Regions from separate parts of the Homo sapiens genome. Here region 1 is linked to region 2. The links come from fine-mapping of genetic effects on plasma protein levels. Region 2 holds a variant in brackets. A gene starts in the other region. All regions are shown on their forward strands. Region 1 holds the start of BMP10 (bone morphogenetic protein 10). Region 2 overlaps IARS1 (isoleucyl-tRNA synthetase 1).

What was found. A credible set is the group of variants that fine-mapping cannot tell apart. PIP is the posterior inclusion probability: the model's chance that the variant is causal. Protein levels are from antibody-based Olink assays in UK Biobank. Linkage for the fine-mapping came from a reference panel and not from the study's own genotypes, which makes the PIPs less certain.
Region 1: BMP10 starts here. The variant in region 2 is the best candidate, but not a certain one, in a credible set for the plasma level of the BMP10 protein (UK Biobank, PIP 0.81).

The regions. Positions count from the first base shown.
Region 1 is chr2:68,867,434-68,875,770 of GRCh38, forward strand. BMP10 (bone morphogenetic protein 10) reads right to left here and starts at 3,964. Exons shown (of 2, transcript NM_014482.3): 1 at 3,592-3,964. The coding sequence starts at 3,925. It overlaps LOC105374792 (a long non-coding RNA gene), which reads right to left. Exons shown (of 3, transcript XR_940227.3): 3 at 8,108-8,243. RefSeq lists a silencer at 3,780-3,940.
Region 2 is chr9:92,256,983-92,265,319 of GRCh38, forward strand. It overlaps IARS1 (isoleucyl-tRNA synthetase 1), which reads right to left. Exons shown (of 34, transcript NM_002161.6): 16 at 7,947-8,141; 17 at 5,987-6,073; 18 at 3,169-3,252; 19 at 1,872-2,016. Among named protein-coding and RNA genes, the nearest start is that of MIR3651, 31 kb to the right of the region's middle. The variant A/G (reference allele first, on the strand shown) is at 4,794.

The sequences.
Region 1 (8,337 bases), not on the chromosome of region 2:
ATTGGTTGCCTTAGTCTTGTACCCCTAGCACCTGGCATGGGGCGTGACATGTATAACTCACTCAATAATGTTTATGAATCAACTCTGTAAAAGTCCTTTAGTCTTAGAAGCATACTTCCAAATACGATCATGTTGACTTCCTATCTGAATATTTCACAGTGAGCCCAAAGCTCCTGCACACTTGCCTCAGGTAATGAGTCTACAAGGAAGCCCTGAAGGCATTTGCCATCAGATTATCAAAGGACTCCATGGCACCGAAGATGCTAAGGACCACCAACTGGGGGTTCTCTGTCATCATTGGCAGCATTTCCCCAAGTTTATACTTAGTTCATGATCTCGGTGAGTCCCTGTTTCAGATTATAATCTTTTAATATTTTTCTTTAATTTGATCTAATTATTTTATACTTATTATCTATTTTAGACTGTTCCTAAGCAACATAATTCATTAAAGGAGAGATTTGAGGTGATATTTATGTGTGTTTGCTAAAAATCCATACTAAGAAAAATATACAATAATTTCACATGATTAATAGCTTTCTTTGGGTACCACCTAAATTAATCTTACACACTGCTAGTGGGAAATGCTGACCTACAGAATAAATTTAAACTCCCTGGCATGGCTCTCAAGACCAGCTATATCTGGGTCTTAACCTCCTGATCAGCCATAGCTTACATACGTCCTCCACAGTGCATGGAACATTGTGATTACTCAATAATATTTGTGAACAATTGAATGGATTTGTAAACCCTTCTGTTTTAACTACATTGATATCTTTACCACCTGTCAAAACACTCTTTTTTTCCCTGCAATTTTCACCTTTTCACATGTTCTTCTGACCCTTGGAAAGCCCTTTCACCTCACCTCCACCTATCCAGCTCTGACATCTCCTATAAAAGCCTCCCTTACTTCTCATCTGAAAGTTCCCTCCTCTCCCCTCTGAAATCATTTGATCACTTTATATCTCCTTTGATCCTTGTCATTTACGTCCTTATATTTCAGCCATCTTTTTATGAATGGATTTTCCCAACTAGATTGCCATCCTCCTGGTTTGAATGGCTCAAAACTCCCTTCTATGTCTCTATCCTACTATGATGGCTTAAACAGAGGTAGTGCTTTAAAAATATTGATTAGTTGATGATTCTAGGCACCAGACTAAATTGATTTATGGGCGTGACATATGACCTTAATCCATCATCAAGCTCTTGGGTTGGGCTTGGGAGTTATTCTTCCACTCTAAGAAGGGAAGAGACTTGACTCCCCATGGACAGGGAACATGGAAGAGTAGGCTGGTTGCTCTACCCAGGAGAAAAGTATAAAATAAGAGCTCACTGTAGTGGGAGGAAGGCATTACAAAGTATACAAGGAAGCTTTTGGTTTTAATGGATATATTCATGATCTTGATTGTGGTGATGGTTTCAATGAATGTTACATATGTCAACACCTTTCAAATTATACACTTTAAATATGTGCGATTATACTTTTATACATCAATATTTTTATATGTCATATTTTTATAAGTCAAATATACCTCAATAAAGCTGTTTTGAAAAAGTAAGTTCACTGTGAAGTTCTGTGCATGTGCAAATGCAGTAAGCAATAGATGGAAGAGTTACATTTCAGGGCAAGAGAACGAATGTTTGTTGACAAATTTCTCATGCCAGGTGCTTTGCAAGCATGATCTTCTCTGGTTCTCACAATGACCCCATAATGCAGGTATTGATTCTCTACTCGTTTTGCACCAGAATAAATCAAGCCTTGATGCAGATAACTGATTTCCCCAAATGACAAGGTGATAAAGGAGCACGCTTTTTTCACCTTGGAGGTGGCACTTTTTTTTCCCAAGATGGGGTAGGTTTGGAGTTTTTTTGGTCTTTCTCTCCTAGGGAGCTGCACTAAGCAGATCCAAAGAGTCAGAAGAGAGGCAATAGTAGCCAACAGGGCATGTCCTGTGCGATTTCTGTCCTCAGGCTGCACATTTCCTGCAGACTGGCAGAGGTGCTGGCGGCTGGGTTGTTTACTAAGAGATGTGTTCCTGCCCTCAATAATCTCCAGTAATAATAAGCACAGTAAACTCCACATCCTGACCTGGATCATCCAGATACTCTATGAGAGAAGTGAGAACGGAAAACGTTTCTAGTTTTCCAGGGGATGCAAACAACATTTTCTCACCCACACCCTGAGCCAGACACTTAGGGCTCAGTGCTGAGAAGTATTAGGGAGGGTTCTTACAGGAGGAAGTTGTTCATTTTCAATTCAGACTCACCTCCAAAAGCAATCTGTAATCTCAACTTGCCATTTCCATGAGAAAGATATTATGAATTATAAATTTTGGCAGCCAACTCAATTTTAAAGGGAGATAATATCTTAGGGACTAAGGAATACCTACTCAACATTTATTCCAGTACCTAGAATATTAAGTAACTCATTAGTAGTCACTAAAGTTTGATCAGCACTTCATAGTAAATGGAGTGCTTTCTTATCTGTAACCTCCTTTGAGTCACTCAACTATGTTATGTAGGTATTATTACTCCCACTTTATAGATGAGGAAATTGAGGCTCTGAGGCATCAGCTAATTATTCACAACCACTAAGCCAACTAGCTCTCAAAATCCCAAATCCTGAGCTATTTCTTCACTATTACCTTTCTTCTTTCAAGAACATCTGGCCAATATTAACGGGAAGCTTCTTTTATACCTGGTTAGTGACTATAAAAGCATAACTGGCAAAAATTAAATTAGTTCCTTTGGACCTTCAGCTTCTACTATAGATATCTAGATATCAGGGGTTTTTTTTCCTACTAGGACCATATTAACCAAAAAACAAACAAACAAACAAACAAACAAAAACATTAACTTGCTAGCTCATTAGATTTAGTTACCAAATTTAAAGACCTAAGAGAAGAAAACACACTTTTCCCACCAATAATTCAAAGCTTGTACGTTGCTCTTTATAAAGACGGAAATGATGAGCTGGATGATTAATGGGCCATCTACACTTCCTGGAAACTGTAAACAGTGCTTTAAGGATGTACATGACACATCAAACAACACAGCCTTAGGAAGAATCTTTAAAATATATTTCCATCCTGTTTGAACATTTCTTAAATAAGGTCACAAAATAAAAACTTATCAAAAGTTTGAACAAAACACAAATCACAATTTGATGTTTTTTGACTGTTTTTACCCTTTTTATTCTAAGTAGAAGTTGAGAAATTTTTTAGTTAATTAAAAGCCCATATGGCAATCAAGGCCTATTTGGAAAATGACAAAGGTACGGCAGTAGACCAACATTAATTCTTTGTATTACTTGGTGTTCAAATTAACATTTTTTAAAAGGACCCAATTATGATGTCAAATTGATAGATGTTTTGTGGCTTTGGATTAAAAGATGTTTGTAAGTATTTTTCGAGGTTCCTGAAATGACTATATAATTGGTATAGAACAAAATGTGCCTTGTTTTTGTGTATCCATATGTATTTAACATCCTTATATAGATGTATTTACCCTTACCTATATCATTCCCATGCATTGTAAATTTACTTATTGTGTCTTGAAAAAAATCCTAGCAAAATTTCATCAGCAAAAACTTACCTTCATTCTTGAAACTCCTAATGATGTTGGCAGAGGGCATGGAGGTCCGATCTGTTGCAAATTTGTTGTAGAGTTCCAACATGTACTCTGGTGGGTCCACCTTGGCTGAATCCTGCGTGGGGATGTCAGAGAGGTTTAGTGTCTTAAGAAACTCATCCTTCATGCTCTGGAGCAGTGTGTTAAAGTCGACACCGTCTTGCTCTGAGAAAACATCACCAAAGAGGGACATATCTTCTTCCAGAGGAGACTGCTCTAGGTTCATGATGGGGCTGCCAGAAACCAAGTAAGCTGCCAGGCAGAAAAGAGCGCACAGTGTCAGGACCAGAGAGCCCATGACTCCGCTCGAGCTCCTAGGCCAAGCCAGGAAGGTTTAGCTTCCCTGGGCTCTAAGTGGCAGTTTTATCTTGTGGAACGTAAATGTCTCCTGTCACTGGAGACAAGTTTGGAAACTCTTCCTCTCTCTCTCCCTCCCCCTACCACTCTTCCTCTCCCCCTAAAAGTCAGGTTGCAGTAATTGGATAACAAAATCCCCTATAGGGGCCTAGCCTTTCTTATCTCCCTAGTGTAAACTTGTGCACCAGAATTTGTTTCTATCTTGCAATCCCTATTTCTTTTAATGAGCATTTTGTAAACATTTCCACATTCTGACACTGGTTGAGAGATAGGACAATTTTCTCTTTGCAAAGGCTCTGCTTCTCTTCCCTTCAATTCACTTCCTTTCAGCAGGAATGCCTAAATTCTGTTTTTATGGGGCTTAGTTTCACACATGCATATAATAGGTATAAGAATCAACATAATGCACATCAATGGTGATACATGTTAATTTGAGAGGTAGGGCTCAGATAAACACTTGTGAAGACAGACCAAATATCCAAACTTTCCAAGTTTAAGTTAATAGCTATAAATGAATTATATAAATTTTTAGAAGTGTACCTTTTTAGAAACAGGAAAGTATAAACTTCATGATTGACAGGCTTTTTCCTACCTATTTGATCTGGCTAAAATAGCATTTGAAAAATAGGGCAAGTGCTTAGTTATACTGGCAACTAGAATTTATTAGATGCTTCCTACAAACAGGCATTGTACTGAGTGCTTTACACCTATCATCAAGTGTGCTCCTGTAATAACCGTATCATTATCTCCATCACATATATGGGTCAGTGAAGTGCCATAGCTTGCCAGAGGCCACAAAGTTGCAAAGTGATGGGGCCACAATTTCAACCAAGGCAGCCTGATTCTTATGAAGAATAAAACAGTCACACTTTTAAACCACTCTTCTACCAGACTAGGGCATGGGCAATAATGCTGAGAGGCCAACACGTCCCCAGATCAGCCTGGAGGCAGGAGGCAGGCAGAAATTTGTAGCTGGATGTGGACCTCAGGTCCTCCATCTGTGCAATGAGTTGTTAATATAACCAACATCTCTGCGAAATTCATCCTTCTGACTCAATCAAAATTGTCATCAAGAGGCTCCAGCAAAAGCTTGGTGTGATGGTTAATACTTACTGTCAACTTGATTGGATTGCAGGATGCAAAGTATTGATCCCGGGTGTGTCTGTGAGGGTGTTGCCAAAGGAGATTAACATTTGAATCAGTGGGCTGGGAAAGGTAGACCCACCCTTAATCTAGCTAGGCACCATCTAATCAGCCGCCAGCACGGTTAGAATATAAAGCAGGCAGAAAAACGTGAAAAGACGAGACTGGCCTAGACTTTCAGCCTATCTTTCTCCCATGCTGGATGCTTCCTGTCCTTGAATATGGGACTCCAAGTTCTTCAGTCGGGGAACTTGGACTGGCTCTCCTCGATCCTTAGCTTGCAGACAGCCTATTGTGGGACCTTGTGATCGTGTGAGTTAATACTTAATAAACTCAGAAATATATCTCCATCCCCTATTAGTTCTGTCCCTCTAGAGAACCCTGACTAATACACTCGGCAAACAACATTACTAGGCACACAAAAAACGCCAAATGCCTTGGTCCTGAAAATAAAAATGGTAGAATCGATTGTGTGTCCAGATTAGGAAAGACAAATCAGGTTCATCACATTTTCCATTCTAACTAGTGACAGTAGCAGCCGGGGTGCAGCCAGAGAGGCCCTGCGGACAAGCCCAGGGGATGTTTTTCCCACTGAGGTGGTAGTTCTGGTATCTTTCTGACGTGCACACCATTACTCACGCGTCCTGGTGCTGTGTTCCAAGGGCTGTGTCAAGATATTTGGTTCACTGGAATCCTTTCTCAGTTTCTAGGTTAAATTTTCCTATATTCATGCTCATCGTTTAGCTACAATGTCTCCACTTAACTTTTTCTCCAGGCTCACTTAGGTTTCTAGTCATCTTTTGATTCTTTTTCCTCCTAAAATGTACAATGTTACAGCCATTTTTTAAATTACCATAGAAAGAACCATATTTTGTTTAGTAGTTGTTAATTGTCTATTTGTTTAATAGTTTTGATTTTGATTCAATGTTCAATTTTGATTCAAACTTTCTATTCCCATAGTAAAACGACAATTGTAGACTGGAGACAGATTATACCCTGAACAGTCCCACAAGTGAGTGAGTGACTCCAAGGGCCAGAAGCCGTCCTTCGGGTGGTTCGTTTTCACATGAGGTTTCTGACAGCATACCAGCAATGCCCTGTATCATGTCCTGCATCCAAACAGGCACCCATTTATCTTCACACACACACAGATGTCAACGCACACTCCAAAACTCTGAATGCAGGCATGTGCGTGTAACTGCCACAGGACAGCAGTGTAAGTGGTGGTACTTACAACCCCTGAGCACACTGGTTTCAAAGGTCACGGGGAGAGACATGCATCCCACATTGCGGAGTTCTAGTTCTTTACATTCTTGAGCATAAAAACATTAACTGAGACTTCACTGGCTTCCCTGTACTTGGTGTTAGAAAAACTACAGGGTCAAATATTTGGATCCATGTTGATATTTGGGGATGATTAAAAGATACAGTAGGAAAATGACTATAGCCATATTTCAGACATTTCAAGATATCAGCGTGTCTTGAGACGCATGCTTGGTGAAGGTTCTTAAACCCATACCTGTGCTGGGTGGACAAGGAAGGAGGTTGGCTTCATGCTTGGAGGAAGGGGACATAAGCTCTCTCCCTCTTCCAGGCCTGGGACACCTCACATCTTAGCTGCAGAGTCTCTTTATCCCCATATTTTTCTCTAGAAGCTTTTTCTGATGACTCTCATCTGACCCTAAAAGGTCCAAATGTCTTTACATTCCTACCCCTATTTTGATCTTTCTGGATGCAATTCATTCTATTCTTTTGCACTTATCTCATTATTTTGTATCCTTCTCATTTGGAATGTGTTACGGTTCATTCAGAGTGGATGGGCAGTTTCGTGAGCCAAAGATGTAAAAGGTATGTTTAGATGTTTTAAAAGAACCCATACATGTGGAAAGCAAAATATTAATTACACATTATGCTTTTCCACCCCACTGCAAAATGCTCCAGAACCTCTGATTTGCAAAGTTCTGGGCCAGTTTTTAAAACTAGTTCCATAACTGTACAAACTTAAAGAATCTAACATTGAACTTCATTGGATTCTCAAAGGGATCTGGGATCCAGACATGGTCAGAGCCACTGGACAGCATCCTGATGAATTCTGCTGTTTCCTGTGAGTAGTGCACAGCCCCTGAATAAATGCAACCAATAAAATTATCCTGAATGAAAAGAGGCCAATGAAGTCAGGAGGTCTTTGAACATGACTCTAGGTTCTTGGAACCCTCTCTACCTTGGATCCCACTTCAGAAGCATTACATTACTCCTGCTACCTTCTCAGGACCAGGTGTGATAATAAAAAAAAAATTTAACAAGCTATACGATGGGTTTTGCCCATTTAACTTATATATGAATTGAATCATGTTATATGTTTTCTTCCAAGACTTACTTTTTTGCACTCAACAGGATTTTTCCAATGCACACTTGTTGATGCCTGTAGCTGAGTTCATTGATTTTCACTGAATTGTTGTCAGCTTTATAAATACATAAAAATTTCTTTGTACGTTATACTGTTGATAGAGACTTTGTTTCTTTTTTTCTCATTATTTACAGTACTACAGTGAATAATCTTACTGTTATTTTCTATTTAAGAGATTCTCGGCCAGGTGCGGTGGGTCACGCCTGTAATCTCAGCACTTTGGGAGACCGAGGTGGACGGATCACGAGGTCAGGAGCTCGAGACCAGCCTGACCAACATGGTGAAACCCCGTCTCTACTAAAATACAAAAATTAGCCAGCCATGGTGGCATGTACCTGTAATCCCAGCTACTCAGGAGGCTGAGACAGGAGAATCACTTGAACCCAGGAGGCAGAGGTTGCAGTAAGCCAAGATCACGCCACTGCACTCCAGCCTGTGCTGGCTAATAACCACCATGTTGGACAGTGCAAGTCTAGACTTTATTTAGTAAGAGTAAATATCAGAATAGAATTGCTGGTTGGTAGTCAGAAAAGACTCCAACAATTTTACATAATGCCAAATTGTTTTCGAAAATGGTTTTCCCAATCCTGTGTCTCCCAGCAAGAGTTCGTGTTGTTCCACATCCTTGCCAATGCTTATGCTGATTGACTTTGGGGACTGTAGTTGAGTCTTGGAGGCTCTCTCTTCTGCTCTTCTCTGCCACTCATTCCTGAGAGATGCAACAGAGCATGTAGATTATCACCTTGAGAAAAGGTATAGTTTGGGCTGGGAAACACTGTTTTAGTATTGTGTTGGCTTCCACA
Region 2 (8,337 bases):
CAATTAATTTATTATGTTTTTGAGTAAACTGAAGAGAGTTTAGGAAAACATTACTTCTCTGCACCAAAGAGTAATTATGAATTGAAAGATATTCTAAAATCTTGTCAGAAAAGTGTAGGGTTTAGTTACTTTAAACCTCAGGAAGGAAGGACAGTAGAACTGTCTAGGATTGAATGATTGTCCACAAACTGAAAATGAGTACTGGGAAATAATTTCCATGCTAAGGCTGTTCATTTTACCCAGAAAGTTCTATCCCACTCTTTTTGCTTTGCAAAATCCTCCTTGATCTTAAGTCCTTGCTCTACAAACAGAACTCATGTCCTGCTTTGTTTCTCTGGCAGCACCACAACCAGGCTAGCGGGGCAGTGATAATGTGACTCTTCCTCTGTGTTTAAGGCCCTGATCATGGAGTCTGTGTCTTGCTGGTATATTCAGATGGGCCCTGGCTGTGGGGAGCTTTGACCCCGCCTGTATTCCTGAGTCCCACACCAGTGGAGACCTGCAGAGTGCACCTGCCCAAGGACTGTTTGCCCTACTTGGCAGAGAACCACATGCAGGACAGGTGGCAGGCTGCAGAGAGGAGGAATGCTGGGAGCCTGGGGAAGATGACTGCCCTTCTCAATTCCTGGGGAAAGGCTACTCTGAGAGCCTCAGGTGAACATGATGTGTCCTCATTAGCAGAACAACCAGAGCCCAAGGGGAGCAGAAGTAATTGACCTGCCTGCTGGAGTGGGATAACAAGAGTTCATTTTTCCAACCAGCTTTTTCATCTGCTCAAGCAGGAATAATATCTCATTTTCATTCAACAGTTATTTACTTACAAGCAATTTTACTTGTAAGGTGCTGGAGATCAGATGTGCAGTATCGGAACTCTGACCCCAAATCAGGTCTTGAAAGCCCATACAGGAACATGTTCAATGAAGGTGATGGACGCTGACAATGGTCAGTTGTGGGGCATGGAAGGTGGCTCTAGAGCAAGGGCTTCTCAGGTGAGAAAGTAACTCCTGGGCGTGGAGGTAACTGCCATTGAAGTACACTTCCACATACATCACAACTATTATATGTGACCCTAACAACCCACTGAAAACTCCATCGAGAACTGCTGTCACTCTCAGATTAGCCCAAATGCCACCCCACTGAGGGGCCTTCTCTGACCACCCATCTCAAGTGGCCAGCCCTAGCTTGCCTGTGACTCCGCCTTCACTGGGTGCTCTCTCTAAAAGTTGCTGACTCTTTACTGTATCTCCCAATTCCCACTCCATTGGTTCCATAAGGGGAGGGGTGTCTCACTCAACATGGTGTTCCTGGTACCAAGAACTGGCTGACGAAGCTGGGTGCCGTGGCTCATGCCTGTAATCCCAGCACTTTTGGGAGGCCAAGAAGGGCGGATCACCTGAGGTCTGGAGTTCAAGATCAGCCTGACCAACATGATGAAACCAAGTCTCCACTAAAAATATAAAACAATTAGCCAGGCATGGTGGTGGGTGCCTGTAATCCCAGCTACTGGGGAGGCTGAGGCAGTGCCTCAACCCAGGAGGCAGAGGTTACAGTGAGCCGAGATCGTGCTATTGCAATCCAGTCTGGGTGACAAGACTGAGACTCCACCTCAAAAACAAAAACAACAACTGGCGACTAAACAACTATATGACATAACTCTTTTGCAGGCTAGGGCCCATGGTCTTGGCATAGCCCGGACCCTAGATACCTTCCGCACCTGCATGTATGGCCTCCCCATGGCTCTAAGTTACCCCAGCATCAGGCAGCAGAGAACAGCAGCCCTAAAGTCTCACACAGAGCTCCACCTCACAGCTTGGTGAAGGGAGCGCTGTGGAGACACGGCAGGTACATGTGCAGCCCCCTACAGCCCATACCTTCTGGAGCCTCAGAACGTTCTGGATTAAGAAGCGATAGGCATTGTACCATGGGAGCAGTACATCCTTAAGGACGTCCCGCACACCCTCTTCTTTAAAGCGGAGGTTTTCTGCTCTCACCACAGGGGAGTTAATCAGATATAATCTGGAAGAGGGAGAAAAATTAGACAGAAAAGGTACTTAGACAGTAAACCAATTATTACTACTCGACATATTGAGAGAGCAAGATGAAAATCAGTCCTATTTTCTACAAAAGGGGGTAATTATGAATACTCTTTGAGTGGTCAATTTAAAACTCACAAAACTCACTCTCACTTTCTATAAGAGACTTAGCAAATTATAAAAGACGTATATAATCTGACACCAAAATATGGCACTGTATAGCACAGAAATGCATCTTATGCCACTCTCACTGCAGGACCAATGGGGTACACCAGCACTAAGAGAAAGGCTGGCCTGGTCCTCGTCAAGAGCCACTGTGTCCTTCCCACGGACACGACCTGCATCTGCTGCTTGCAGAGAGAGGGACTCACAAGGAAGAGCCTTCACAGAGCAGAGTCTTGACATCTGGTGGGCAGAGGTTAGGGATGCTGCTAAACATCCTACAAAGAACTACCACCACAAAGAATTACACAGCCCAAATGGGCAGCAGTGCCAAGGGTGAGTCTAAGAGACAGTGGAGAATTGGGGGAGAGCCCCACTAATGGCTCCTGGTCAACAGAGGTACTGTGTGAAGGTGCTGAGTCACAGGCCTGGGCACTGGTCTCATGCCTAGGACACAGGGATGCTGAACAAGATCTCTAGGTCCCTTTCAACTTGAACACTGTGTGGTTTCATGATTACAGCTACCTCAAGCAGTGGCTCAAATTTCTCCAAAAGCTTTTCAATATGAGTTTTTTTATCACCTCTAGCATAGATATATCTCACATGGCTCTGTAAGTACAAAATTAAAACAAATGATGAAAGAGAATTCTAATACCAACAAGACAGGGAACCTAGAAAGGAAGTAAGGCAGAGGCAATCAGCATCTAGCCTGGGGAGGACTTGGACAGCTCAACAACACCCAACACAGGTCCTCTTCCTCAAACAGACCTCTAGGTTTAAAAATGCCTTTATTATTTAGAAAACTATTTTGGGGGTTTAAAATCAACAACCATACCAACATAACATCCAAATAACAGAGATATGTTGCTAAAAACCTAACTATAAACCAAATCTAAGAATACTGATTAATAGTATAGGAGATGCTTACATAAAAAAACAATAGATACACACAAGGCAAAGCACTGGTTTGTACCTGAGGGCATCAGCACCATACTTCTGGATGATGGAAACTGGATCTGGATAATTCTTTTTCCGTTTGCTCATTTTTTGGCCATCACTTGTAAAACAAAAGGGAGATGCCAATTAAGTAAGTCAATATCACAGATGATCTTGTTTTAAGGATACAAATCATTTGCAAACAGGAATATACAAAATGAAATGGGAAGGAGTAACTTAGATAGAAGTTAGTGCTAATAGGCCGGGCGCGGTGGCTCACTCCTGTAATCCCAGCACTTTGGGAGGCTGAGGCAGGCAGATCACCTGAGGTCAGGAGTTCAAGACCAGCCTGGCCAAAATGGTGAAACCTGTTTCTACTAAAAATACAAAAATTAGCTGGGCGTGGGGGCGCACACTTGTAATCCCCACTACTGGGGAGGCTGAGGCAGGAGAATTGCCTGAACCTGAGAGGCAGAGATTGAAGTGAGCCAAGATCGCGCCACTACACTCTAGCCTGGGCAGCAGAGCAAGACTCTGTCTCAAAAAAGAAACAAACAGTGTTAAGGTACAATGGTAAGATATTTTGTTAATATTTGCAAACTTCTTTTTGAATATCATACTAAGTCCATGAGGAAGCTTCAGGGTAGACTGAAGAAGAAAGATGTGTCAGAATATATCCCAAAGAAATGAAAACTTACATTATCATAAAAACCTATTATCAATTGTTCACAACAGCTTTATTCACAATTGCCAAATGTTAGAAGCAACCCAGATGTCCTTCAAGAGGTGGATGATCAAACAAACCATGGCATACCCATAATACAGAATGCTATTTATCCATGGAAAGGAAGGAACTATTGGTAGGTGCAGTCATCTAAAATCTCAATGGAATTATGTGGATTTAAAAAAAGCCAGCTGGGTGCGGTGGCTCATGCCTGTAATACTAGCACTTTGGGAGGCCGAGGCAGGTGGATCGCCTGAGCTCAGGAGCTCGAGACCAGCCTGTCAACATGGTGAAACCCTGTCTCTACCAAAAATACAAAATATTAGCTGGGTGTGGTGGTTCATGCCTGTGGTCCCAGCTACTCGGGAGGCTGAGATGGGAGAATCGCTTGAGCCCAGGAGGTGGAGGCTGCAGTGAGCCGAGATCACGCCACTACACTCCAGCCTGGGTGATAGAGTGAGACTCTGTCTCAAAAAAAAGAAAAAAAAAGCCAATTCCCCCAAGTTAGTTACTGTATAATTCTATTTATATAACATTCTGGAAACGACAAAATTACAGAGATGGAGAAAAAACCAGTGGTTGCCAGGGATTGGGGATGACAGTGGGAAGGCAGGAGGGGAAGGCAATGCAGGAAGGGAGCCTTTGATGTTGAATTCATTCAGTAACCTGACTGTGCTGCTGGATACAGGATCCTACACACGATAGCCGTATACAGGTAAATGCGTATAAGCAAATAAGTATATGTAAAACTAGAGAAATCTGAATACGATTAGTGGGCTATATCAATATCCTGGTTGTGATATATACTGTAGTTTTGCAAAATGTGACCACTGGGGGAAACTGGGCAAAGAATTTAAGGGATCTCTATTATTTTTCACAATTGCATGCAAATCTACAATGATCTCAATACAATTTCCCCCTTTTTTTTTTTGAGATGG[A/G]GCCTCACTCTATTACCCAGGCTGGAGTGCAGTGGCATGATCTTGGCTCACTCCAACCTCTGCCTCCCAGGTTCAAGCGATTCTTGTGCCTCAGCCTCCCAGGTAGCTGGGGTTACAGGTGTGTGCCACTGCACCCACTAATTTTGTATTTTTAGTAGAGACGGGGGTTTTATCAAGTTGGCCAGGCTGGTCTCCAACTCCTGACCTCAGGAGATCCGCCCACCATGGCCTCCCAAATGGCTGGGATTACAAGCATGAGCCATAGCACCCAGCCCTCAATAAAATTTTCAATTAAAAAAAAAAAAAAAGTAGTACACATACTACAGAGGCAGACTGCCTGGGTTCAAAATTTGCATTTACCACTCATTTGCTGTGTGTCCTTTGGCAAGTCACTTTTTCCTGTCCCTCAGATTCCTCAAAGGTCACAAAGGGATTATAGGACCCATCTCAAATGGTTCTGGGGATTAAATGAGTTAAAATGTGAAAATGCACACAGTGGGGCCTGGCAAAAAATAAGGATGCACAAAATGTTAGGTGACATCCTCTTCCTCCTCACACAGCATATAAAGTAGGATTTCTGTGTGGGTACTCAGCACAAATTCTATTTTAAAATATTTCATTTTAAAATTTTCATTTATGTTTATTTTTATTCTTAATGACTAGAGGTAATAAAGTAAAGGAAAAATGAGACTTCCTTATAATAGCAAAATGTGGGAAATAATGCCCATTGGGAGGAAGTTTCAGATGAGGGGAAGAATGGGATCTGGTGGCAGAGTACCTCGGTCAAGCCCAGTGTGGCTGTCACTAGCTTTGATCCTGGGCACCTGTGGTCTCTAGAACCCACAGCTTCCTCGTGTGTTAAAAAAAGGACAACAAAATCTACATGAAAGGACTGATGTACAGATTAAATAAGATCTATAAGCAAAAGTATTTCATAAAGTGCTAAGTTTAGTAAATGCTATTTTATTACTAGTAATATCACTAGTAGCATTATGTTACTAGCAGTAGCACAATCTGAAAGTCCTCCCCTTCCTCCTCCTCCATCAGGCTTAGCTGTCACACACTCCTTCTTGAGAAACAGTGGAGACAAAGCTCCACCTGTCACTACAACAAAGTTGACCGCTCTCACGCACTCCTTCTTAAGAAACAGTGGAGACAAAGTTCCACCCGTCACTACAACAAAGTTGACCTACCTTGCCAGGACAAGCCCATTCACAATTACGTTCTTGAAAGGCGGTTGTCCAAAGAGGGCCGTGGCCAGCACCAGCAGGGTATAAAACCTGAAAAAAAACCCCAAACAGTTCAATAAAAATAGAAATGAAGTCCAAGCATAAGAAAGAAACTGTATTTATTCATTGAATTTCTATTTTTGATAAGTCACACTTCTTGAGAATCACTTAAAGCAATGATTCTTAATCCTGGTTACTGGAGACCAATCAAATTACTGTCTAAGATTTGAAAGAAGCATTGAAATAAACGTCTGGAATGATTTACTGACCATTTCTCTGTTACCAGAGCTCCCAGGAAGTCTGTGTGGAGAGCCACATGGCAGCACTGGGTGGCCTCTCAGGACCACCCAGAAGCACCTAGCTGAAGATGAAGGATGGGTTTTGAATTTGGCACAAGATCATATGGAAAAGACAATTTGATGACAAAAGATGCAAAATGCACTCTCACCCAAAAGTGATAAGGCAGACTAGAAAATGCTTTTATTCTGTAAAATGTTATGTACCTCATTTATGTGCTACCTAGCTTGTTTCCCAAATGAACTCATATCCCTGACCACTGTCCTGGGGGTGATGCTTTCCTGCCTCTCTTACCTAGTCCTGCACTCTGAGAACATCAAGGGACATGAGCTGAGGAGACCAGACCCCATAGTTAACATAAACACTGATCCAGATATCCCTCCCACTTCTAAAGGAGAGTTGGGAGGAGCCCTGGTGCCCAGGAGAGGTAGCCCAGGCCTCAGGAATGGAGAAGGAGGCAGGCACCAAGGACACGGGATCCACATGAGGACTGTTACCAGCTAACAGACTTTGCTACTCCTCAAAGGAACAAGCTCATTGGTAAGGCATCTACCCCTTTCTAAAAACAGAATTTGTGCTGGGTAGCTGTTCCTATAGACAAAAAGGACTGGAATCTGAAGACAGCACATTCCAGAACATGAAGACTTGAATTCAATGATTACCCAAAGCTGTCAAAGAGAGAAAATGACACCAACAATTCCTTTAACACACCCCTGCAGAAACATTACTGTGAATGTATAATTAAAACCTGGGCTGGGCGCAATGGCTCACGCCTGTAATCCCAGCACTTTGGGAGGCTGAGACGGGTGGGTCACTTGAGGTCAGGAGTTCGAGACCAGCCTGGCCAACATGGTGAAACCCAGTCTCTACTAAAACTACAAAAATTAGCTGGGCATGGTGGTGCATGCCTGTAGACCCAGCTACTTAGGAGGGTGAGGCAGAAGAATTGCTTGAACCCAGGAGGCGAAGGGTGCAGTGAGCCGAGATCACACCCCTGCACTCCAGCCTGGGCAGCAGAGTGCAAGATTCTGTCTCAAAAAAAAAAAAAAAAGTAAATAAAGCCTGGGCCAGCAAAGCCAATCCATGGAAAGAAAGTAATTCACCTTCTTCCAATTAAGGAACTGTTTTACATAAGGCACCAGATAAAAATCAATGCCCAAATCCTCTCTCATATGTATATTTTTTAAAAATCTGGATTTTTTTAGAATGTTGATTTATAAGGCTAGCCTCAATATCTGAGCACATTACCAACTATCCCTCAAATTTCTAGCACCCAAACTACTGTCTTTTATGCAAATACTCAAACATTTGAGTAAATGATCTGACGTAAGCTAAGAACACATAACTTTTTTTATCATTTTAACATCCAGTGTAACACATATATTCCAAAATGCCAGTGAGATCATTGAAATTGTAAAACTACAGCCCTATTGTAGTGGGAGAGTCCTACTCAAAAGGCACTTTAATGTCCGTGCTTGGTGGTGGAGGGGAGAGGGCAGGAATGTAGCCTGTCTTATTTGCCACAATCTCTCCATCACCCAGTAGATAAATGGCAGTGACTTAGTAAAATACTCCCTAAATAAAATAAAATCAATAAAACACGTGATGAAAGAACAAGGAGGCATACCATCCTCTGGTTTGGTCGATGCCCTCGGCAATGAAATCTGCAGGAAAAGCATCCTCAAACTCCCTCTTGTTTTCAAACGGGTAATGAACCTGAGCATAGGGCATGCTGCCACTCTCAAACCAACAGTCAAACACTTCAGAGATGCGGTGCAAGGATCCCTTCCCACAGCGTGAAGGAATGGTCAGGTGGTCAACACTAACAAACAGAAAAGTAGTCATTTCTATTAACTGTAAGCATAACAGAACTTGCAGTTTAATTGCTAATAGGAAACACAAAACCCTGACAAGATATTATACACATTTGCAAACAGAAATATCAGCAATTCTCAAAGGCTTTCAGAGAGCACCATGAATCCTCCATCTGAAAGGTTATGCACCATTCACCTCACATT